Homo sapiens: one gene and its partner. Each later gene encodes a partner of the first gene's protein in a complex. Each region holds a gene or a part of one and is shown on either strand. Other genes may lie near its edges. The genes, in order: POLH and REV1.

The links.
Region 2: the proteins of POLH (region 1) and REV1 are in contact, whole or in part, in an NMR structure (PDB 2LSK), measured with the Homo sapiens proteins. Residues at the interface, in NP_006493.1 of Homo sapiens: Thr528, Glu529, Pro530, Phe531, Phe532, Lys533, Lys535, Ser536, Leu539; in NP_057400.1 of Homo sapiens: Asn1158, Leu1159, Ala1160, Gly1161, Leu1171, Leu1172, Trp1175, Ile1179, Asp1181, Pro1182, Met1183, Glu1185, Asp1186, Gln1189, Val1190.

Annotation. Positions count from the first base shown.
Region 1 is NC_000006.12:43,574,308-43,587,044, reverse strand, and holds the start of POLH (DNA polymerase eta), read right to left. Parts: upstream 10,861-12,737; 5' UTR 10,605-10,860; intron 4,730-10,604; 5' UTR 4,726-4,729; coding exon 4,589-4,725; intron 4,039-4,588; coding exon 3,904-4,038; intron 1-3,903. Other genes in the region: XPO5 (exportin-5), read left to right, coding at 11,181-11,285. UniProt on the Homo sapiens protein: DNA polymerase specifically involved in the DNA repair by translesion synthesis (TLS). Due to low processivity on both damaged and normal DNA, cooperates with the heterotetrameric (REV3L, REV7, POLD2 and POLD3) POLZ complex for complete bypass of DNA lesions.
Region 2 is NC_000002.12:99,397,382-99,410,118, reverse strand, and holds the end of REV1 (DNA repair protein REV1), read left to right. Parts: intron 1-1,987; coding exon 1,988-2,090; intron 2,091-3,628; coding exon 3,629-3,794; intron 3,795-4,012; coding exon 4,013-4,209; intron 4,210-5,441; coding exon 5,442-5,675; intron 5,676-6,303; coding exon 6,304-6,424; intron 6,425-7,012; coding exon 7,013-7,230; intron 7,231-7,318; coding exon 7,319-7,475; exon of another isoform or gene 7,476-7,772; coding exon 7,773-7,875; intron 7,876-8,766; coding exon 8,767-8,878; 3' UTR 8,879-9,642; downstream 9,643-12,737. Other genes in the region: EIF5B (eukaryotic translation initiation factor 5B), read right to left, coding at 10,705-10,812, 11,210-11,371. UniProt on the Homo sapiens protein: Deoxycytidyl transferase involved in DNA repair. Transfers a dCMP residue from dCTP to the 3'-end of a DNA primer in a template-dependent reaction.

The DNA of each region.
Region 1 (12,737 bases):
CCAGAACTACCAAGGCAGAAAGCATTCAGACTATGAACACGTCTATATGACAAGGAACTCTCTAAAAAATAAAGAAATGCCTCAAATTTGTGTATTACTATGATCACCTATTCCTTTTATTTTCATATATCCACCAAGAAATCTTCTGCTTCTAATTTTGTCTTCAAAAAAAGGGTAATTTACATGCAACACTGCACTGATCAGTGAACCAGAGTATATGGTCTTCCCCAGGATAGTATTTCTCACCATAAATTAACAAACTGGCATATGGATTTTATACTTCAGTCAACGGTGAGTTTGGTTAACATGTGAACTGGTCATCACCACATACACACACATGCCTTAACCAACCATTTACGGATATACTAATATTCAAATGATCAAGTTGAAGATAAGCACCTAGAATGTGGTGATGTGTCTGGGCAGGCAGACAACCTTCCTCAGGGTATACATACCAATCTCATCGTATGTCTTCTATTCAAACTTTAATAAGCAGCTCTTCTGGCTCTATACCTAGTTTTCTACGACAATATACAGATATTTTCTTTTTTTTCTTGTTTTTCGAGATGAAGTCTCGCTCTTGTCTCCCAGGCTGGAGTGCAATAGTGGCATCTCGCCTCACTGCAACCTCCACCTCCCGGGTTCAAGCAATTCTCCTGCCTCAGCCTCCCAAGTAGCTGGGATTACAGGCGCCTGCCACCACGCCTGGTGAATTTTTTTGTATTTTTAGTAGAGACAGGGTTTCACCATGTTGGCCAGGCTGATCTCGAATTCCTGACCTCAGGTGATCCACCCACCTCGGCCTCCCCAAGTGCTGGGATTACCGGCGTGAGCCACCACATCCGGCCAATATACAGATATTTGCTTTCCTTTGGCTTGGACCTGCTTTGTAGTGTCCAGTTCTTTGTTCCTATTGACTTTATATTTACCATAAAAATGAAAACATCGGTACCTCTTCACCATGACACCCATAAAAACTAATATAATTATTGTTCTAAAACACTCTCAAATTAGAGAATTAGAGAAATACTTGACTTTTTTTTTTTTTAAATCATTATTTGAACTAGGAAGAGGATAGGCCTCAAAGAAAATAAAGAGCAAGATCGGGCGCAGCAGTTCACACCTGTAATCCCAGCACTTTGGGAGGCAGAGGTGGGTGGATCACCTGAGGTCAGGAGTTCGAGACCAGCCTGACCAACATGGAGAAACCCCATTTCTACTAAAAATATAAAATTAGCCAGCACGGTGGCACATGACTGTAATCCCAGCTACTCGGGAGGCTGAGGCAGGAGAATCACTTGAATCCAAGAGATGGAGGTTGTGGTGAGCCGAGATTGCACCATTGCACCCTAGCCTGGGCAACAAGAGTGAAACTCCGTCCCCCACCCACAAAAAAAAAAAAAAAAAGAAAAGAAAGAGCAATATACTCATACACACAGCCAGAAAAGGATACTTATAATATTGTGAAATATATATTCGGTCTTCATCCCAGTTTCCTGGCATACAACTCCAAAAATCCTTGGAATCACCCAAGTTTTGTCTTTTTGTATGCTAATGTTAACTAATAGCTTCAGGATAGGGCAGGTCACCAAAAAGACCACGGCATAATTAGAGGGTTGGGACTTTTGGCCCCACCCCCTCAACTTCTGGGGAGGGGAGAGGAAGAGAGATACTGCAGGTCAAGTTGATTACCCATAGCCAATGGTTTAATCAGTCATGAGTACATAACGGAGCCTCCCTAAAAACCCAAGAGGACAGGGTCCGGAGAGGTTCCAAATAGCTGTAATAGTAGAGATTCCTGGAGGGTGGCTCACCCAGGGAGGGCATGAAAGCTCCGCACCCCTTCTCACATGCCTTGCTCTATATATCTCTTCATCTTCATCTTCTTTTTGACAGGATCTCACTGTTGCCCAGGCTGCATGCAGTGGTTTGATCATGACTCTCTGGAACCACAATCTCCTGGGCTCAAGCGACCCTCCCACCTCAGCTTCCTGAGTAGCTGGAACTAGAGCTGCACAACACCATGTCTAGCTAAATTTTTTTGTTTTTGTTTTTGTTTTAATTTTGGTAGAGACGAGGTCTTACTATGTTGCCCAGGCTGGTCTCAAACTTCTGAGCTCAAGCAATCCTCCTGTCTCAGCCTCCCAAAGTGCTAGGATTACAGGCGTGAGCCACCATGCCCAACCTATCTGTATCCTTCGTAATATCCCTTATAATAAACATAAGTAAGTGTTCTCCTGAGTTCTGTGAGTCGCTTCAGCAAATTAATCAAATCCAAAGAGGGGGTTGCAGGAACCCCAACTTAAAGCCAGCTGTTCAGACGTTCTAAAGGCCTGGACTTGTGATGGAAAGGAAGGAGGGGGTGTTCTTGTGGTATTGAGCCCTCAACATGTGGAATCTGATGCCATCTCCAGGTAGACAGTGTTGGAATTGAGTGCGAGGACATGCAGCTGGTGTCTGCTGATTGGTGTGTGGGGAAATACTTCCACACCTTTGGTCACAGATGTCTTCTGTGTTGATTGTTCTTGTGGTGTGAGAGGAGAGGAAAACCATAGTTTGAGTTTTTCTAAAACAATACTCTATTTCAGTGCTTCCTCACAGCCTCTTGAGCAAATCACTGCAAGGTATTTTTAAGAGTATTTGGAAAACTTAATCTTCAGTCAAGTCTATCTTCTTTTCTAGCAATAATTCCAATGTGGGTCTGTATGCCACTCTACCTTTAGACTTCTAATTCATAGAATTAGAATTAGAATTCAGAAGTATGTCAGGTCCTAAGTCAAAGCATGATTCCTATACCACAACACATAGTATAGTGTACCTTGAGAACATAGATACTAGAATCTTAAAAAACAGATGTGAATCCTCAGTCTTTCACTTAGCTGTCTGAACTTTTCTCTTTCTTGAGACAGGGTCTCACTCTGTCACCCAGACCGGAGTGCAGTGGTGTGATCTGGGCCCACTGCAACCTCTGCCTCCCAGGCTCAAGCAATCCTCTCAACTCAGCTTCCTGAGTAGCCGGGACTGCAAGTGTGTGCCACCATGCCTGGCTAATTTTTGTATTTTCTGTTAGAGATGGGGTTTCCCCATGTTGCCCAGGCTGGTCCCTATGTTGCCCAGGCTGGTGTCCTGGACTCAAGTGATCTGCCCGCCTCAGCCTCCCTAAATGCTAGGATTACAGGCATGAGCCACCATCCCCAGCCTAACTTAAATTATTTAACTTCTCTGAACTTGATTCCTTATCTGTGAAGGGGGAGTAATATTAGTACCTACCTTATAACAATGTCAGATTTAATAGAGATATTGCCTATAGAGAGCTTAACACTGTGCCTGGCATGTGATAATATGTTTAATACATATTAGCTGTTAGGATTAAAGGCTGGGGTTTGTGCCTACCTCTGACTTAGCTATGCTGATTCATATCCCCCATTCCAAGGTGAAACTTCTAATATTTGCGGAGAGATAGCTTAATCTAAAAACAGAGAAATCTCCCTTGATATTGTTCAATTATAGCAACTAATTCCTGATATTGTACTACAATGTCAGTTTGACTCAGCCTTTCCTGGAAAAATTCTCAGTTTCACAGTCAATTTTTCAAATACTTTAGATTTTTGGATGGAGAACATGGGAATTGGTATTAAGTCTGAATTTAACAACCAATTTTGAACAATTAAGGAACTGAATAGATATCAAAGGCAGCAACTCTTATATGGTATAATGGTTTTGAACTGTCCCCAAAACACAATATTAAAATCTGTTTTTCATTTCACAGAGACAAGATGGCTAACCAAAAAGAATTTTTTCCGGTGTTATTTACATGGAACAAATTCAAAACACCAGTTCCTAGCCTCATGGAGTATTATTTTCGACTCCTTTATGTCTCCTTAAATAATGTTTTTTTCTTACTTGGTGAGGTTAGCTTTCCCACGGGACTCACGAACTTGTGCCAGTAGAAGATCTGGACATAACTTCTTAGCATCATCTGCCCACATACTTCTAGTGACTCCAAATGCACGAGCTTCATAACTCACTGCAATTATTCTAAGGTTAGAAAAAAAAGGAAACAGAAAACATATTATATGATCACAAGCAAAAACAAGTAACATTTAACACAAGTAATCTATAAACATATTAGAAACTTTTTGACCACAGATGCCATCATTCAATCCAAAACAAAGCAGTTCAGAAATCTCAAAAATAGGGCCAGGCACAGCAGCTCATGCTGGCAATTCCTGTACTTTGGGAGGCCAAGGCAGAAGGACTGCTTGAGGCCGGGAGTTCAAGACCTGCTTGGGCAATATAGTGAGCCCTGCCCCCCCAACCAATCCCCATCTCTACCCACCCCCCAAAAAATAAAATCAGCTTGGCATGGTGGGGCGCTCCTGTAGTTCTAACTATTTGGGAGACTGAAGAGGGATGATCACTTGAGCCCAGGTCAAAGCTGCTGTGAGCTGATGGTGCCACTGCGCTCTGGATGGGACAACAGAGAAAGGCCCTGTCACCACCACCACCACCACCACAACAACAAAGGACCTGCCACAGTGCCACTGTGTTACCATTGAATAGTTGTGACAATAACAATGATACATACCCACCACCCTTCCATGATTTGTACTGTACAACTGCACAAGGTTTATTCCTCAAATGAGGATTTTGCCGCTGCTCCACTTGAACAAAAAAACAGTCCATGTCCACGAGAGCAACCACTCGATCCTGTCCAGTAGCCATTTTTCTGTAACACAACATTTTATGGACAGTTAGAAAAACACCTAATCCAAAATGCCAGGGAAAACTGTAATTCCATTCTTTCACTGATGAGTTACCATGAGCATGGGAGCATGGAAACTAACAAGAATGAAATAGGCATTTAAATATACAGGTTGAGTATCCCTTATCTGAAATGGCTGGGATCCAAAGTGCTTGAGATTTTGCATTTTTTTCAAATTTTGCAATATTTGCATTATAATCACCAGTTAAGCATCCGTAATCCAAAAATCCTAAACCTACAATGCTCTAATAAACATTTCCTTTGAATGCTGTGTTGGTGCAAAAAATTTTTTGGATTTTGGAAGATTTCAAATTTCAGATTAGGGATACCCTGAGTGGAAAAAACAGTTTTTAAGATTCTTTCACTCGATCTTGAGAGGAGGTCGCGGCGCCGGAGGCCCTAGAAGGCTCGAAGGCGCCGCGGGCTGGGGTCGGTGGCTTAGGGAGCCCGTCCGGCCATGGTGGCCGCGGGTGGTGGTTGGCGCGGCTGCGCTGCGGCCCGGGGCAGTGCGGAGCCGGGACAGTCGCGGCGCTGACGCCCGCGGGCCCCAGCTGCAGATATGAAGCGGAGCCGCTGCCGCGACCGACCGCAGCCGCCGCCGCCCGACCGCCGGGAGGATGGAGTTCAGCGGGCAGCAGAGCTGTCTCAGTCTTTGCCGCCGCGCCGGCGAGCGCCGCCCGGGAGGCAGCGGCTGGAGGAGCGGACGGGCCCCGCGGGCCCGAGGGCAAGGAGCAGCCGCCTGCCTTGGCCTCCCAAAGTGCCGAGATTGCAGCCTCTGCCCGGCCGCCACCCCGTCTGGGAAGTGAGGAGTGTCTCTGCCTGGCCGCCCATCGTCTGGGATGTGAGGAGCCCCTCTGCCTGGCTGCCCAGTCTGGAAAGTGAGGAGCGTCTCCGCCCGGCCGCCATCCCATCTAGGAAGTGAGGAGCGCCTCTTCCCAGCCGCCATCACATCTAGGAAGTGAGGAGCGTCTCTGCCCGCCCGCCCATCGTCTGAGATGTGGGGAGCGCCTCTGCCCCGCCGCCCCATCTGGGATGTGAGGAGCGCCTCTGCCCTGCCGAGACCCCGTCTGGGAGGTGAGGAGCGTCTCTGCCCGGCTGCCCCGTCTGAGAAGTGAGGAGACCCTCTGCCTGGCAACCACCCCGTCTGAGAAGTGAGGAGCCCCTCCGCCCGGCAGCTGCCCCGTCTGAGAAGTGAGGAGCCTCTCCGCCCGGCAGCCACCCCATCTGGGAAGTGAGGAGCGTCTCCGCCCGGCAGCCACCCCGTCCGGGAGGGAGGTGGGGGGGGGTCAGCCCCCCGCCCGGCCAGCCGCCCCATCCGGGAGGGAGGTGGGGGGGTCAGCCCCCCGCCTGGCCAGCCGTGCCGTCCGGGAGGGAGGTGGGGGGGTCAGCCCTCCGCCCGGCCAGCCGCCCCGTCTGGGAGGTGAGGGGCGCCTCTGCCCGGCCGCCCCTACTGGGAAGTGAGGAGCCCCTCTGCCCGGCCAGCCGCCCAGTCCGGGAGGGAGGTGGGGGGGTCGGCCCCCCGCCCGGCCAGCCGCCCCGTCCGGGAGGGAGGTGGGGGTGTCGGCCCCCCGCCCGGCCAGCCGCCCAGTCCGGGAGGGAGGTGGGGGGGTCAGCCCCCCTGCCCGGCCAGCCGCCCCGTCCGGGAGGTGAGGGGCGCCTCTGCCCGGCCGCCCCTACTGGGAAGTGAGGAGCCCCTCTGCCCGGCCAGCCGCCCCGTCCGGGAGGGAGGTTGGGGGGTCAGCCCCCCGCCCGGCCAGCCGCCCCGTCCGGGAGGTGAGGGGCGCCTCTGCCCGGCCGCCCCTACTGGGAAGTGAGGAGCCCCTCTGCCCGGCCACCACCCCGTCTGGGAGGTGTGCCCAACAGCTCATTGAGAACGGGCCATGATGACAATGGCGGCTTTGTGGAATAGAAAGGCGGGAAAGGTGGGGAAAAGATTGAGAAATCGGATGGTTGCCGTGTCTGTGTAGAAAGAAGTAGACATGGGAGACTTTTCATTTTGTTCTGCACTAAGAAAAATTCCTCTGCCTTGGGATCCTGTTGATCTGTGACCTTACCCCCAACCCTGTGCTCTCTGAAACATGTGCTGTGTCCACTCAGGGTTAAATGGATTAAGGGCGGTGTAAGATGTGCTTTGTTAAACAGATGCTTGAAGGCAGCATGCTCGTTAAGAGTCATCACCAATCCCTGATCTCAAGTAATCAGGGACACAAACACTGCGGAAGGCCGCAGGGTCCTCTGCCTAGGAAAACCAGAGACCTTTGTTCACTTGTTTATCTGCTGACCTTCCCTCCACTATTGTCCCATGACCCTGCCAAATCCCCCTCTGTGAGAAACACCCAAGAATTATCAATAAAAAAATAAATTTAAAAAAAAAAAAAAAAGATTCTTTCACTCAACAACAATCAATAAGGTAGACTTCTGTGACCAAATGTGTGAGGATTTCTCCCCACCAACAAACAAGCAATCAATTCTGCAGCAGACACCAAGTGGGTATCCTCCAATTCGAGTCTGACATTATCTACCTGGAGAAAGCGTCAGATCTCACAGGTTGATGGCTCAGTCCCACAAGACTGCCCCCTACTTCTGATGCCAATCACAAGCCACAGGTTGTTTTACCTGTGCTTCTAACTGACTGGATATAAATTGGGAATCTCATGAGCCCCTCTTTGGGTTCAGTTAATTTGCCAGAGTGGCTCACAGAACTCAGGTAATCAAATTTACTAGTTTATTATAAAGGATATACAGATGAAGAGATACACATGGCAAGGCATGCCCTCCCTGGGAACACCACTCTCCAGGAACTTCCTTTTGCTCCTATCCAGCAGCTCTTCGAACCCTCTCCTCTTGGGCCTTTTATGGAAACTTCATTGGATAGGCATGACTGACATCCGTGTAGAAATGTGACTGGACAAAAAAGATATGATCTAATACTAATAGACTGGGGAAACCCAGCAAGGCCTGTCCAGATTCTTCCTGGCCTCTCTGGGTAGCATTCCTTTCTCCAGGGTATGGGGTAGGAACTCTTCTGAAATGAAAGTCTTATGACCCATAATCAGAAAGGCAGGGGAAGATTAGAGTCCTGCTTTGGGCAGGTGAAAGGAGGGCAGAAGGCCAGAGAGAGATTCTGTTTTCTGAGGCTTGCTTCAAGAGCTCCAACATTATAACGAAAGCTAGGGGAGTTATGAGCTAGGAACCGTGGACAAAAACTAACATACATATATCACAATATCACAGATACTCAACCTGTACTGCTGGCATAAGGATAAATTAGTACAATTTTATGAAGGCAATAGGTATTAAAAGCTTTAAAAATACTTATCCTTAAAAGAACTAACCACAAAATACAAACATAGCCAATTGGCACATAAAAATAGGCTCACCATCATTAGTCATGGGGAAATGGAAATTAAAATGCACATCACCAGGGGAAGAGAACCAATACGGAATCAGTTGACAGACAAATCTCAAGTATAAATTCAGAGAAAAGAGAAGGAGAAAATAATATATAACATCATAGCATTCATGAAAAATGTCAACCTTTTACTCTGAAATACTTTTAGACTTACAGAAAATCGCAAAAATGGTAGAGTTCTCCTACTCCCAGTTTCCTGATGTTAACATCTTACTTAACACAATTACCAAAATTTAAAAATGAACATTGGCATATTATTAACTACATACTTTACTGCCCCCCAATCTGTGGCATTTCCTCGGTTGTTCCTTGTTTTTCATGACCATGACACTTTTTTTTTTTTGAGACAAAGTCTCGCTCTTGTCCCCCCGCCAGGCTGCTTTAAATACTACTGATATTTGACTTCCACAACTATATATACTAACTTAATTGGTATGGGTATGACCTGGGCATGAGTTTTTTGTTGTTGTTGTTGTTTTTGAGTTAGAGTTTCGTTCTCGTTGCGCAGGCTGGAGTGCAATGGCACAGTCTCGGCTCACTGCAACCTACGCCTCCCGGGTTCAAGCGATTCTCCTGCCTCAGCCTCCTGAGTAGCTGGGATTACAGGCGCACGCCACCACGCCCGGCTAATTTTTGTATTTCGAGTAGAGACTGGGTTTCACCATGTTGGCCAGGCTAGTCTCTAACTCCTGACCTTAGGCGATCCACCCACCTCGGCCTCCCAAAGTGCTGGGATTACAGGCGTGAGCCATCGCGCTCGGCCTAGCATGGGGATTTTTTTTTTTCCTAGACAGAGTCTCCGTCTGTCACCCAGGCTGAAGTGCAGTGGTGAGATCTCAGCTCACTGCAACCTCCATCTCCCGGTTTCAAGTGATTCCTCTGCCTCATCCCCATTAGCTGGGACTACAGGCGCGTGCCACCCCGCCCGGCTAATTTTTTGTATTTTTAGTAGAGACGGGGTTTCACCGTGTTAGCCAGGATGGTCTCGATCTCCTGACCTCGTGATCCGCCCGCCTCGGCCTCCCAAAGTGCTGGGATTACAGGCGTGTGCCACCGCGCCAGGCCGGGGATTTTTAAAAGCTCTCCAGGTAATTCCAATATGCAGCAGTTTGGGAGCCAAGACCTAAATAAGACAATCGAAACACCAGCAATCCATGATTTAAATACGAGAAACACAGGTTATACAGTTGAGTGAGCACCCAACTGTATTCTAAAAAAAGTTTTTCAAAAACTAACATTCACCTTGAAAAAAAAAACGTCTTACAACTGCAAAGCAGGAAGGTGAGTGGAAAGAAAAATAATTAAAATCAGAGCAGTCAAAGCATTAATTCCTTATAAATTCCAATCGACCACGCCTAAAACAGGCAGAATGTGATACTTTAAACATTTACAAGTTAAAACTATAACATGCCAGAAGTCCCTCTACTTTGAAGTGGCTTTTCAGTAGTACTGGAACAGACTGAGCCAACAAATAGTATTGTAACACAAAAAAACACAGGCTAAGCACCATATTAGATCCAAATACCAGAAGTGGAGCAAGAATAGGAAGCAGTGATTTATGTTCAGCACACAATTTACTAAGCACACAATCACAAAAACAGACATGCAGACTTTAACAGATAATAAAGCTGTTGAGGTTTTCCGTTTATGTATTTACTGGAGAAAGCAAGAGCTTTATTTATTTATTTTTGAGACGGAGTTTCGCTCTGTCGCCCAGGCTGGAGTGCAAAGGCGCGATCTCGGCTCACTGAACCTCCGCCTCCCGGGTTCAAGCGATTCTCCCACCTCAGCCTCCCGAGTAGCTGGGATTACAGGCGCGCACCGCCACGCCTGTATAAAAATACTAAAAATGCAAACATAATTTTTGTATGTTTAGTAGAAACGGGGTTTCACCATGTTGGTGAGGCTGGTCTCGAACTCCTGACCTCAGGTGATCCGCCCGCCTCCGCCTCCCAAAGTGCTGGGATTACAGGCGTGAGCCACCGCGCCCGGCCAAGAGCTTTATAAAGATGGAAAATGAAGAAGACTTTCTGCCCAAGCCATGCTTTTGGATAAGGATTACACTACTTTGAAACCTTATACATAGCACTTGGCCAATTATCAAAACTGCACAAACCTTCACTGATTGCAATTATTCCCTTTAAACATCTCGAGTTACCCCAATCCGCACAAAACAAGTTTAGTGCCCACCAGGTAATAATACATCCAGGAAAGTAATTCCAAGAGAGAGGTTTAACAACTACAGGGAAAAACATACTTTTTTCTACAAGAAAAATCTTAGAAGACAGTACCAGGGCCTTATCCCTGTTAGCATGATTTATATTTCACGCAACCTTGGCCCAGTCACTGCTACATTATAAAACCAATAGCCAAGGCAACATAGAAAGTCTGAACACAGTGACAGCGAACGGTTCTAAATTTTCTTACCAAGGTAACAAACACCTGGCAAAACTGCCAGCAGCGGTTGCCGAAAATGCTGGGTTCGGTGCCTACTGGAAGGAAAATGGAAGGGCTCCTGAATATCTTTTCGCCTTTCTAGGAGCGGTCCAGTGAGTTTCGAGCGAGATTTATTCCCTGTGACGACGGAGAAACCGAGAAGGGATCGTAAAGGATCCTGCCCGGGCAACCGTCCCCAGCAGGGATCAGACGAGAGCGGCGCGCCCAGCAATGCAGCCGCCAGACTGAGGTCTGACAGCGCGCCCGCTGCGAAGGGCCGTTGACGCGGCTGCGCACCGCGGCCCTTCCGCCTCCCGCCCCGCCCACCTAGGCTCAACCTGCACACGGGAGCCGCCACTTCCGCGGGCGCGTGCGCAGTGGCGGGCCGGGCGCGTGCGCAGCGCCGGCTTCTTCCCAGCGCGAGTTGCTGCTAACGCTCCTCCTCCAGCTTCCCACCCCCGCCGCCCGCCGCGGCCCGGTACCAACGGGTGGTCTCGCCGAGGGAGCTGTCGTGCCTCGTGGTCCCGGGACTGCAGTGGTGTGCGCTCTCGGCGCGTGGCGCTAGGCATGGCGATGGATCAAGTAAACGCGCTGTGCGAGCAGCTGGTGAAAGCGGTGACGGTCATGATGGACCCCAACTCCACCCAGCGCTACCGGCTGGAAGCCCTCAAGGTAGCTGGGGTCCTGGCGTCCTGGGCCGGTCCCGACACCCTCTCCCAGCCCCAGCAGCTCCGGCGCCGCCTGTAACTGGGGTAGTCTCCCGCCCACGCGGCCCCTGGACCTCCTTTCCCAACTCCCCGGGACCTTCCCCTCGCGGCCCTCCGCGCCTCTCCCAAATCGCCGCCTTCTCTACTCGCCGCTCCTGTCCTTTGCCTGGGACACTCCGGTCCCTATGCTGCTTCTCATCTCGCCGCAGCTTCCCACAGCCCTCTCCTCCCCCTTTCCTCGCTTCTGTGCACTCTTGTCCGCAACATGACCCTCGCCCATTTTCATTCCCCAAGCCCGACATCCCCTCGCCTTCCCGAGGCGCACGTGTAGATCCCGCCCCCAACACCAGCTTCGTTCTTTATGGTCTCTCCTGCACTAAACGTTTTCCTGCTGGCCCACTCCCCTGGCCCTGACCGAGCTCCAGCCCCTCTGGTACCCTTATGCTTATATGCTTTAACATCTCGCTAACTTTCGTTTGTGTCTTGGACATTTTCCGGGGAAATTCTCGCACCCCTACTTCTCCCATGTTTTTGAGTGTAATATTTTTAGGCTATTTTGCGCAAAGATAACTTCTACCACTTACTTTGCATTTTAACAAGGGCACTTTGGTTTCCTGAAAGTAGTTTGCGTGAGACCCGAATGCTCTGCTCTTGGGACTGACTTATGTTGCAGTTTGGGGGTGTTAATACAATTCAAGCTTACTTGCCCATAAAACAACGTGTGTGGGCTGTGAGAAATGGCCATTTAGGAGAAAATACTTGTGCTGTACATTTTTAAAGTGATGTTAACTTCAAAAAAGAGAGTGACCACCACTTGGAGGAAATGTTACAATATGTAGATGTCTGCCACAGGGTTTGGAATCAGAAACAATTGGGTTCCATTAGTTTGGTTTTTATTATTAATATTTAAAATAGACACAAAAGTGGAGAGAATACGACAGTGATTCTGCATGTTCCTGTCACCTAAATTCAGCAATCAAAGATTTTACCGCATTTACTTTTTCCACCGCCTATCCTCTCTCCCTGCCTCGAAGGTTTTTAAAAGAAACCCTAGAAATTGTTATTTCACCCCTATGTACGTCAGGGGGATGTCTCTAACAAATAATTTCTTATTCCTTTGTGTCCATTTTTTTCCAACACTAGTAGGGCTACTGTTGGCCGTAGCATGGAAAAAATCTGGAACCATCACGCTGGAAGGAATGTTTATCAGTTCTTTATTCATAATATATATATAATATATACACATAAAATAGAGTGAACACCACTTGGAGGAAATGTTATATATGTGTAACTTTTATATATTTTATATTTTTATTTTTATATTAAATATATATTTTTAAAGCAACTGTGCTTGGAGATCCACATAATATTGATCTAGGTTTTGCAACTTTAAACATATAGCTTAGGTTGGAGTTTC
Region 2 (12,737 bases), on another chromosome or scaffold:
GGATTGCTTGAACCCAGGAGGCAGAGGTTGCAGTGAGCTGAGATCGCGCCAGTGCACTCCTGCCTGGGCAACAGAGCAACATTCTGTCTCAAAAAAATGATACACAAAGGCAGACTATAGTAGCTAGAAAAATGATGGTGAAGGAGAGCAACTTCATTTACATAGGTGTATACATTTAATTGGTAAAAAGATGAATGAATCACTGTAATGTCTGAAAACTGGTAAAAGCATTTAAAAACGCTGTTTTTTTTGGGGGGGGGGGGGGTTGTTTGTTTTGAGACAGAGTCTGGCTCTGTCACCCAGGCCTGAGGGCAGTGGTGCGATCTCGGCTCATTGCAACTTCTACCTCCTGGGTTCAAGCAATCCTCCTGTCTCAGCCTGTTGGGTAGCTGGGATTATGGGGCATGCCACCATGCCCAGCGAATTTTTGTATTTTCAGTAGAGATAGGGTTTCACTATGTTGGCAAGGCTGATCTTGAACTCCTGACTTCAAATGATCCGCCCACCGCAGCCTCCCATAGTGTTGGGATTACAGGCATGAGCCAATGTGCCCGGTCTGAAACACTCGTCTTTTATGTCAGGGCCAACTACTTAATATTAAACTTCATGTAAGATTCGTGACCAATATGAAGATGTGTGGTTTTACATGTCATTTTATATTGCACTGTATTTCATCTGTGAAACCAAAATTTTGAGACTTTTGACACTGAAAGCTACTTACAATATGAAGTATAGTTTCATTAAAGATTAGCTCATGCCAACCATACATGGTGCATTCATGTATATGATGATATTGCTAAGTCGTGAGACGACTGCTCTTAAACAGAGAAACTCCCAAGTTACCATGAAAGCAGGAATTATAAATTACAATTAGAGAACATAATTTATAAAATACATTTTTTATCAGTTGGTTATCTTGAATTATATTTACCTACCTGTTATGATACACATGTATCTCAAATAGTAAATAGTGGTCATTTATTTATTTACTTTAAAAACTTATTTATGTAGAGACAGGATCTCGCTCTGTTGCCCAGGCTGGCCTTGAACAATCCTTTTGCCTTGACCTCCCAGCGTTTTGGGATTACAGGTGTGAGCCACTGTGCTCAGCTTTTAGTGGTTATTTCTATAAGCAGATGAAGTAATGTGATTATCTTCTTAAACATTTCTATGGGAAAATCCAATTCAATTTATAATAATTTTTTCTGGGAATATTTCTTGTTTAATGGCCTGGAACTTCATTTGTTCATTATACATGGAAAGGATCATCCAAAACACGAAATAACTTTCCTTTGGAAAGAGAACTGGTAGTAATTTGTTAATCTGTTACTGAGTTAGTAATTCTGTTTGCAATGGGACAGCCCGCTCATGCCAGAGAAGCTCAAAAGGCTCTGAAGGAAATGGTGGGTGAGGTCAGCACATCTTTGAGACCTAATAATGCTGATGGACCATTTGGTCCTCCTTCAAGAGTTCTTAAAGATCTAAGAATTGTTTATTGGCTGTACTGTAAACACAATGAAAGGAGAGTCAAGAAACAACATACAGAGAATTTATCTTTCTCTTCTGAATATTTGCTATACCTCAGCATACATAATCTTGGAACCTAAAACTTCTCTTGGAATCAAGAACATTGTGTTTACCATTCACTTGTGCTTTAGCTGGAAAATATGTATTTATTTGTGCATATGTTAGCTAAAATCTACCTTTTTCTAAATTTCTCAACTTATTTTTAGTTGACCTAAGTGTCCATTACGGTTTTTACCTTAAAGTTCTAGTGTTCCATAATTTTTCTTTCCCCCTTGGTTGCCAGTGTAACTAATTTGGTATTTCTGGCTTCCTTGAAGGGAGACTATGGCATTCACTTTTATAATCTTCTTTGTAACTGTTTACAACTTTTCTATAACTCTTTTAAACAGTTCCATACTACTTTAGTACTAGTGAATACATATGGAATGAAGCTTTTGTTTTTTAATTCTATCACTTACAGGACTGTAACTCTTGACCAGGCAACAGATAATGCAAAAATAATTGGAAAGGCGATGCTAAACATGTTTCATACAATGAAACTAAATATATCAGATATGAGAGGGGTAAGTATATAGTAACATTGTAAATTCTGACTTTGTGTAATGTATCTCTCATTTTTGAGGCTTGCTCTCAAAAGGGTTATTGCTGGTGTATAGGGACTTTATATGTAGGTCTTTAGCTGCTTTGTAATACAAGGAAAAGAGAAACAAAAATTCTTGACTTCCTCCATTTTGACCTCCTTCATTTTAGAATAATTTTCTTAGATTCTTACTGTACTTTTCCAAGGTACCCCTGATTAACCAGGGGCTAATATACATGTCTTCCCTGTTCTTGTTTCCTAGAAGTAGATATGACTGTGAGGAATATGAATACATAAATTTTGTACCTTTAAGTTCCTTTTTAATCAGAAACATACTCTGCATCTGCTGTATGATGACCTAGAAGGGAGTGAAACCACAGGCACATCAAGATGCCTTTGAAACAGGCAAGAGGCATCAAAATGTCAAAACCATAGATTTTTGTGTGGGGTTTTTTTTTTTTGAGACAGTTTTTGCCCTGTTGCCCAGGCTGGAGTGCAATGGCGTTGTATCGGCTCACTGCAACTTCCGCCTCCTGGGTTCAAGCAATTCTCCTTCTTCAGCCTCCCGAGTAGCTGGGGGTACAGGCACCCGCTACCACGCCCAGCTAATTTTTTGTATTTTTGGTAGAGATGAGGTTTCACCATGTTGGCCAGGCTGGTTTCAAACTCCTGACCTCAGGTGATCCACCCACCTCAGCCTCTCAAAGTGCTGGGATTACAGGCACTTGCCCCCATCTCTACTAAAAATACAAAAATTAGCCGGGTGTGGTGGTGCATGCCTCATAGTCCCAGCTACTCGGGAGGCTGAGGCAGGAGAATCACTTGAACCCAAGAGGCAGAGCTTGCATGAGCCAAGATCGTGCCACCGCACTCCAGCCTGAGTGACACAGTGAGGCTCTGTCTCAAAAAAAAAAAAAAAAAAAAAAAAAAAGAACCTTTGTAGGTTTAGTTTTATGTGTGCATATGTAAGTAAAGGGTTGTTCTGGCTTGATGTGGGCTTTGTTGAAAGATTAGTCACTAAGCCAGCCGTAATTGTGATTTCTCCCTGAAATACTGTTATAATGGCACTTTATGGAGGGGTCTGCAGTGTACCTGCTGTTCATCACTCCCGCCAATATTTTTTGAGAAGTATTTCATTTAAAAAAGATAAAAATAGTGAAGTTTCCAAGTAGACTGTCCTCTCTTAATTTTTTTTTATCCTAATTTAAAACCTTAGTTGACGAGAACATCAGTGGAATACAGTATTCCACTTGTTTGGATTTTCTGATTTTAAAGATCTTTTGGTATATTTTGGGAGAATTGGATACTCTGAAGTTTGAGATGAATGACCACTCACTAGCTACTTTAGAAATTGTTTTTGTAATAAGTCATATAGAATGCTGTTTGAATACTTTCATTTACCTTTATTCTAGAAACAGGATCCAGGAGATAGTGAAAAGGATTTGCTGAGGATTTTGCTTAGCTGAATTCATATTTTCACTTTAGTTTTCCTAGAAGCATACTCTTTATTCTGGGTTCTAGGTTGGGATTCACGTGAATCAGTTGGTTCCAACTAATCTGAACCCTTCCACATGTCCCAGTCGCCCATCAGTTCAGTCAAGCCACTTTCCTAGTGGGTCATACTCTGTCCGTGATGTCTTCCAAGTTCAGAAAGCTAAGAAATCCACCGAAGAGGAGCACAAAGAAGGTTGGTGGTCATCAATGTGGTTCTTTTTTAGGTGCTGCTTATGTCCTTGGAAAGACGGCAGTTGGTTTTAAAATTGACACAGCTTTATGTGATTTTAAAAATTTATATTCTTCATTATGATGAATCAGTAATAAAGTTTTTTTATTTGTAATGGACAGAGGATTAAAGGCCCTGCCCGATGATCTGAAGAGGCTATTTTATATATTTTCTTTTTGTAGTATTTCGGGCTGCTGTGGATCTGGAAATATCATCTGCTTCTAGAACTTGCACTTTCTTGCCACCTTTTCCTGCACATCTGCCGACCAGTCCTGATACTAACAAGGCTGAGTCTTCAGGGAAATGGAATGGTCTACATACTCCTGTCAGTGTGCAGTCGAGACTTAACCTGAGTATAGAGGTCCCGTCACCTTCCCAGGTACATTTTTGTAGTCCTAAATATAAGTACATTTTATACTCCTAAATATAAATACAAAAATACAAGTTTACAAATGAAAATGGCATTTTTATTTCTTCATCCGTTTAACCAAGAAAGGGAGAACGGGCCACTTGTTTGGGTAGATCATGATGTTGGATTCTAAATAAGCAATATTTGGGTTGAGTGAAAGTGCTTTTGCAAAGATTTGCCACTCTTGCAAGTTGTAAAGCATAGCTGAAAGGCAGTCCTCCTGTGGACTGCCATTGTCTGTGACAGTGGTCATCATGCAGACTTACTGTATTCAGCAAGGCAGCTTTGGTGATTAGTGGTGAAGTAGAGGCCTTATGTCGAAGGGTTTTTGCAGTATTTGCAAACAGGTCTCTGGAGATTTGGATGGTTTAATTCAGCGTGTGTGGGCTGTACATGTGATATACTGCTGGTCCTTGAAAGTAAGGTAGCACCTTAAGCTATATTGGGCAAGTTTATTTGTGCCTCTGCTCCCCCTGCATGGAAGGAGGCGGAAGGAGATGTTAAATACTGGCTGCAAAACTAGGGGAAAGGGCAATGCTGATATGCTTGTATGGCGACAGATACCCACAATTAGTTACTCCTGGCAAGATAAGATTGGTCCACCCAGTTGATGGGATTGCATGTTTCCAAAGGGCCAGATGTGGATGCACAGGTAGGCCCTGGCCAAAGGAACAGTGGATTCTGTCCTGTAAGTTAGAGAAAATTCAGCTTCTAGAAACCCTTTCTTCCAGTGTGCTGCTCTCAGAGTAGAATTATTTGTATTTTTGGGCAGTCTCTCATCTGAAAGGTGAACTTTTGACCCAGGACTGTTACCTGTCCAGAATTTTAACATGTGCCTCAGGCCTTCACCCCTCCCTGGGGTGGGATCTAATTTGAGCTTCACCAAGGCTATTCATATCTGTTGGCCCCAATTGCAGGACATTCTGTGAGTATATTTGGACTTACCTGGTCATGTGATAGTGGCTGGTAGTATATATACACTTCTTTCCAGACTACACATAGTACTTCAGGCTTCAATGACAAAAGGCCAAGACGTTCCAAAAATGTGCTGATTTGGAGGTGGCTTTCCTAGCTTGATGGTCTGTACCTTACATTGATTATCCACAGTATTCAAATTGAAATTTAAAGTGGCGTGTTAACTCCCAAACACCTCATCTCTGAGCATGCTTTAACTTCCTACTCATATGTTTGGCATTTTATAGCTGGATCAGTCTGTTTTAGAAGCACTTCCACCTGATCTCCGGGAACAAGTAGAGCAAGTCTGTGCTGTCCAGCAAGCAGAGTCACATGGCGACAAAAAGAAAGAACCAGTAAATGGCTGTAATACAGGAATTTTGCCACAACCAGTTGGGACAGTCTTGTTGCAAATACCAGAACCTCAAGAATCGAACAGTGACGCAGGAATAAATTTAATAGCCCTTCCAGCATTTTCACAGGTAAGTTAAATATGGGAACCCTCTGCTGTAGTTTCAATATTCTCACCCCCCTGCTCCAACTTAGGACCTGTCTCACTTCCCTTTCTCCTCTGTATCTGACACCACATCCACTGGGGAGGGGAGGGGAGGGGAGGGGAGAGTGGGCTTGTCTCCATCTCCTGCATCTGCAGGATGTAGACACAGAGCAGCCTCCCGCTGAAGCAGCAGGGAAGAGACGGGGGAGGGCATGCTAAGACAGAAACACACTGATCTGGGGCAAACACATCAATGGCCACACTTGAATACAACAGAGCGGAGATGTATAATCCTGCATGGGGGACAGTAACAACCTGAGTCCCTGTTTCAATGTTTTGCTTCCCATTTTCTACTAGTGCATTTTGCCCAGGTTCTGCTGTTGTAGTGGGTTTCTTTAAGTTAGTACTCTTAATTCCTTATTCTTGCTCTTAATTCCTTATTCTTGCTCTAACCATTTTGAAGATTTAATCAGCTTTGATATTGGGGAACTGTTAAGAATTCGTACAGATCAGAAAAGTGAGATTTGAAAACAAAGTCTGTTTTGTGAAAAAGAGAAACCAGCTACCATCTACAATTAGCTCAGGTTTGACTTTGACCTCGTCTTTTCCACTAGGTGGACCCTGAGGTATTTGCTGCCCTTCCTGCTGAACTTCAGAGGGAGCTGAAAGCAGCGTATGATCAAAGACAAAGGCAGGGCGAGAACAGCACTCACCAGCAGTCAGCCAGCGCATCTGGTGAGCCTTGGAAGTGGCATGTAACAAAAATGAAGACAAAGAGTAATGGAGTCACTGTTGTCTAATTATTGCAGTATATAATGGGCAAAGTCTAAGCTGTTGCATTAAGAGCTCTTCATATTGGGATAATATCTGAAGTATACAGTATGAGTAAATATCATCATATTTCTAGTTGGATTTGTGTCTGTACTTTCAGGATTTAAACACACCACTTTTTACTTTTTAAAAAGTTGGAATAGGACATTACCACAAATGTCTTAAATACTTGTTCAGCTAGTTGTCCTTTGAGATGAATACATTAAAGGATGTTGGTTCAAAATGCATCACAAACATCAAACCCACATTTAGTACTACCCATCATAGATGAGCAACATGCCAAAGGTCAAATTAGTAAGTGGCAAAGCAAAGAGAGAATTGGAGAGCCTGTACTTTGGGCCATTGCCATTCACTGCCTCTCACTTGGGGCAGGAGGGGAGGTGTAGGCTAGGGAGCCTGTTGTATTTGGGAGGAGAAAAGAGAACCCAATACTGTCATCCAGACTATCCATACTATCATTTTGTTGAGGATCTTATATCCATCTGCTCTTAGTGCCAAAGAATCCTTTACTTCATCTAAAGGCAGCAGTGAAAGAAAAGAAAAGAAACAAGAAGAAAAAAACCATTGGTTCACCAAAAAGGATTCAGAGTCCTTTGAATAACAAGCTGCTTAACAGTCCTGCAAAAACTCTGCCAGGGGCCTGTGGCAGTCCCCAGAAGTTAATTGATGGGTTTCTAAAACATGAAGGACCTCCTGCAGAGAAACCCCTGGTAATTCCTTAACTTTGACCTTTATGAGATCTTAATATACCTGGATAATGTGTGAATATAGCAATTTTATCCTTTGTTTTCTTAACAGGAAGAACTCTCTGCTTCTACTTCAGGTGTGCCAGGCCTTTCTAGTTTGCAGTCTGACCCAGCTGGCTGTGTGAGACCTCCAGCACCCAATCTAGCTGGAGCTGTTGAATTCAATGATGTGAAGACCTTGCTCAGAGAATGGATAACTACAATTTCAGGTTGGCTTGGCCTGTGTTAGATGGCCCAAGGCTGAGATGTAGTCGTCTCATGATTTGAGAACATAAACAGACTAAACTATGCAGATTTAACCCATTTCTCTAACTCTGATAAGCTTAAAGCAGCTACCCCCAAATCTTTTAAATTCTGGGACTTGCTTTGAAAAGTAACAAAGCCCATTCCTTTGATAGCTGTTAGTGACATAGTTGTAGAAATGCAGTTTTCCTTTATCCATGCAGATCTCTGACTTTCTCCTTCAAAAAGACTGGTCCTCATTTGAAGTTTTTCCCCCTTCCTAGATCCAATGGAAGAAGACATTCTCCAAGTTGTGAAATACTGTACTGATCTAATAGAAGAAAAAGATTTGGAAAAACTGGATCTAGTTATAAAATACATGAAAAGGTAGTAATTCATCACTTTTATCAAATGGGAAAAAATGGCATGTCACAATGGCTGAGGGTGTACTGAGTTGTTTTAAACTTTCTGGGAAACTGTACTCATTAGGGTTAATGAGAAAGTGATATCCTTTATTTTGCCATGTTGACTAAGTAGCAAATAAGGTTCCAAATATGTTGCCCTCAAGGTCTTACATGTGATTAAAAAACCATAGGAAGTGGGCTGGGCACAGTGGCTCACGCCTGTACTTCACTTCGGGAGGCTGGGGTGGGTGGATCGTTTGAGACCAGCCTGGCCAAAATGGCATAACCCCATCTCTACTGAAAAATACAAAAAATAAATAATCTGGGGGGGTGGTGGTGCCCACCTGTGGTCCCAGTTACTTGGGAGGTGGAGGCTGCGGTGAACCATGATTGCACCACTGCATGGCTCCAGCCTGATCGACAGCTTGTCTCAAAACAAAATAAAAAAAAATTTGAGTGTTCTAGGATTTTATTTTTTTTGAGATGGAGTCTCACTCTGTCGCCCAGGCTGGAGTGCAGTGGCAGGATCTTGGCTTACTGCAGCCTCTGCCTCCTGGGTTCCAGTGACTCTCCTGCCTCAGCCTCCCGGGTAGCTGGGATTATAGGCATGTGCCACCATGCCCACCTAATTTTTCTATTTTTTGTAGAGACGGGGTTTTACCATGTTGGCCAGGCTGGTCTCAAACTCCTGACCTCAGGTGATCCGCCCTCCTCGGCCTCCCAAAGTGCTGGGATTACAGGCATGAGCCACACCGCACCTGGCCAGGACTTTTTTTTTTTTTTGCCAAAGTCAATTTTTATATATAAAAAGGAATAATTAGTCTTAAGGACCTTTCCTAATTCCTAATGACATTTCTTCTCTCCCCACCTTTAGGCTGATGCAGCAATCGGTGGAATCGGTTTGGAATATGGCATTTGACTTTATTCTTGACAATGTCCAGGTGGTTTTACAACAAACTTATGGAAGCACATTAAAAGTTACATAAATATTACCAGAGAGCCTGATGCTCTCTGATAGCTGTGCCATAAGTGCTTGTGAGGTATTTGCAAAGTGCATGATAGTAATGCTCGGAGTTTTTATAATTTTAAATTTCTTTTAAAGCAAGTGTTTTGTACATTTCTTTTCAAAAAGTGCCAAATTTGTCAGTATTGCATGTAAATAATTGTGTTAATTATTTTACTGTAGCATAGATTCTATTTACAAAATGTTTGTTTATAAAGTTTTATGGATTTTTACAGTGAAGTGTTTACAGTTGTTTAATAAAGAACTGTATGTATATTTTGTACAGGCTCCTTTTTGTGAATCCTTAAAAACTCAACTCTAGGAAGCAACTACTGTTTATTATACTAAAAGGCTGAAAAACCTCCAGGCCAGACTGCTAAGCTCTGAAATTCCTGAGAGGTCTCAGACCGGGATTCTACTTGTTCCAAGAAAGGGTAAAGCTTCTAAACCATCTTATTCTTGTCTCCAAGCATGAACACAGGAGCATGTTAAGAAAATCTTTACTACTTCTTCCATGCGGAGAAATCTACATATTTTGAATTAGAAACACCCTCACACCCACTTGAAGATTTTTTTCCTGGGAACATTATGTCCCGTAGATCAGAGGTGGTGTTGTCTTTTTGCTTCTACTGGCCATTGAGAAACTTTGATGATAAAAAAGAACGGTATAGATTTTTCAAACGTATATAAAATATTTTTATGTTATATGTTATGCCATAACTTTAAAATAAAAATAGTTTAAAATTCTATGCTAGTGGATATTTGGAACTTTTTCCTCAAACAAACACCCCACACTGACTTCAGCAAAACCCTAAAACTAGCTACAGATTACTACTACGAATGAATCATTAAGTTTTGTGTCTGCAACAATTTAGAAGCACTAAGCCCAAATATCAGGAAATGTGTGTATGATGGAATTTTCTAGGACAAAACAGATCAAGATTAAAACAGATCAAGATTAATGTATAAAAATCTCTACTAAAACAGATCAAGATTAAAACAGATCAAGATTAATGTATAAAAATCTCTACTGTTACCAGGTGCTGGCATACAAGGTAGTGTGATGATAGTTTAGTTTGTAAGATAATTCTTGTCCTAGGAGGACAACTTGTGGGAGAGAAGCTACACTAACATGGAAGCCTAACAGAGCTTGCTTACTGGTGGATGTCTGTTTTCTTTATTGGTAGTTTGGTTTAGAATTGTGATGATTACAATGGACTCGTGACTACACAAGCAGTAAAAAGCAGCCAGCTGTGCTTTTACACCATGGTTTCACACAAAGCAGCTAAAGAAATATCAGAATGCCTAATTTTCTATTTTATAAAAGCCCTAAAGGCATATGGCAGAAGAATGCTGGAAAAATCACTGTGGGAAGAATATGCATAAATAAAGAAGTATTTCTTACGTCAAAAAAGTCCCAAGAATCACAAAATCTGCAGAAGCTTGGTTAATCAAATACTGCAGTACTGATTTAATCAGTATAAAATCGAAAGAGCTTTAGATCTGTAATAAAAATCCAAATTTGGGGAAGGGCAAACTTTAAAACAGCAGCCAAGTAGAGAAGGGTTGGGGAAGGGAGAGGTGAGTGAACAGGCACATTGGAACTGTGGGGACATGTAACTGACCACTGTCAAACCAGTGTAAGTTTCTTGGTTTCTCATGGAAAACATTTTATACACCTATTTTTCTTCCTTCCATACTTAAGTCCATCAGTGTCCAAATACGTCTGTTCCATTTTTTGTCTGATTTTTGTTGGGATATTACAACACAGTATTGCATTTACTCCAGTTCCTGCTCCATGTGAAAAAATTAGATGATTTCAAATACTTTCTTCAGCTCCACAATAAGCTGCCAGTCACTCTTCTGCATTTCATCTCTGAACCAGTCTTTGAGTGCATCAATGGACTGCCGGCTGATCTGCAATGCCCGAGGCACAAACAGGGTAAACAGAACATAACAAACGTGCCAAAGAAAGCTGTGGCCCCAGATGCCCGCTCTCACTGTACTAAAAAGCTTAAGCAGAAATAAAAAACAGGGCTTGCCTGCCTAAGGGAGTAGAATTCCAAAATCACATCTGGTTTGCATGTCAGGCACGAGGGGACCTAAAAGTCCTAGCTTTCTCTGTTGGTGCTGCTTTCCTGATAGAGCAACTTCCTCAACAGACAAGGCCCAGCTAGAGGTCAAGCCCTAATGGGGGATCCAGTCCCATCAGATTCTACAATCAAACTGAAGCCCAAGGAGCTACAGGTACAGGTGACCCAAGAAGAGTGATTCCCTGTTGCTTAAAGTGTGCCACTTTTGCTGAAATACTTACCTTACTAACAAGAATATCTGTAGCTTCAAAATGTCTTCCAAACATTTTGGGTGACTCACCAGGGATAGGTTCTATTTTTACACAAACTTCTTGTCCTTTTTTTGCAACATCCACTTGTTTATGGTTTATTTCAATACTTGTTACTATTCCGATGTCAACAAACTATAAAATAAGAACAAATTAAAATGCATGCAGAAGAATTCATGCCAATCACAGGCGCCATGGCTGGATAGCTGAAGTAAGAACTAGAGCAAAAGCCTGTTTTAAAAGTCATGGCAGTGCGATCCTTTCATCACTCACGGTGTAACATTTTGGTAAACTAGGCTGGCACCACCAACACCCTATTCCCTTCATGATGGTTGTAAGAATGACAGGAGATAATGTGCTTTGCAAAACATTCCAAGTGCCCTGTTGACCCAATGTCATTTCCTATTTTTGCTCTACCATTTCACGTGACAGGTGCCGTAATAGGAGGGATCAGCAGGCACAAAGGGTCTGAGTCAGGAATGAGCTTGAAGTGGCTGATGGGAATGAAGTCAGAGTGAGGACCAATCCTGAAATTTTAAGAATGATGGCCTGTGAGCAGATGAGTGATGTGATCTCAGAGTTTGGGGCAAAAAACCCTGACTCCTTTGTGGAGAAAAAGATTCAGGAGAGTAAGAGTGAAAACAGGGAGAGCTCTGGTTGGTTTAGGAGGCCAAAGCCACATAGAAAGTAACACAAATAAATGTCCAGGCTTAGTCCACTGAAATGGTAGAAAAGCAATGACAACTTCTAAGTGCCATTGCCCATTACAAGAACCAGGTTTGGGCCAGGGAAAGTACTAGATGAGGCTGGAACATCTCAACCAGAAAGGAAGATGATGCTCAGACTGCTGTGTGTCAAGGATACAGGAGCCAGTTGAGCTCCTACTGACCACAATAGAAAATCTGAGTATCAAAAGAATAAAGGTAATGGATTATATTAAAAAAAAAAAAACCCACTGAGTCTATGACTCAATAAAAAGGTCAGTGGGAAGAGGTTCTTTGTAAGAAATGGGGGGACAGGTATATCCACAATTTTGCAACCATCTACGTAATAGTTGACTTAGGCAACGCTTGCCAGTGGGTACTAAAGGCACTGGGATAAAGGCTGTTGAGAAACAGGATATCCATTAGGAACTCCAGGTACCAGACAGATTACAGAGTAATTATAAAGGGGCAAGTTTCTAATGGAGATGGTTGGCGTCTAGCACTTTCCCCAGGAAATCAGAGCATCAGCAGCAGTCAGACAGGCTGGGTCATGCAAGAGGCAGGCACACAGGGAAACTGCATGAGTGTCTTTCCAATAATTCTAACCTGTGTCTAGTTGGGAGGGAGAGAAACAGATAAATCCAAATGGAGGAGGGATTTGCAAAACAACAGGGACACTTCAAAAAGAATGGAGGACTGTTCTTGACTGAGGCTCAGCCACAAAACAAGCCCCAGTGCAATGCAGCTTGCAGGGCACTGGGCCAGATTGGTGGGGAGAGTTACCAAAACATCTTTGG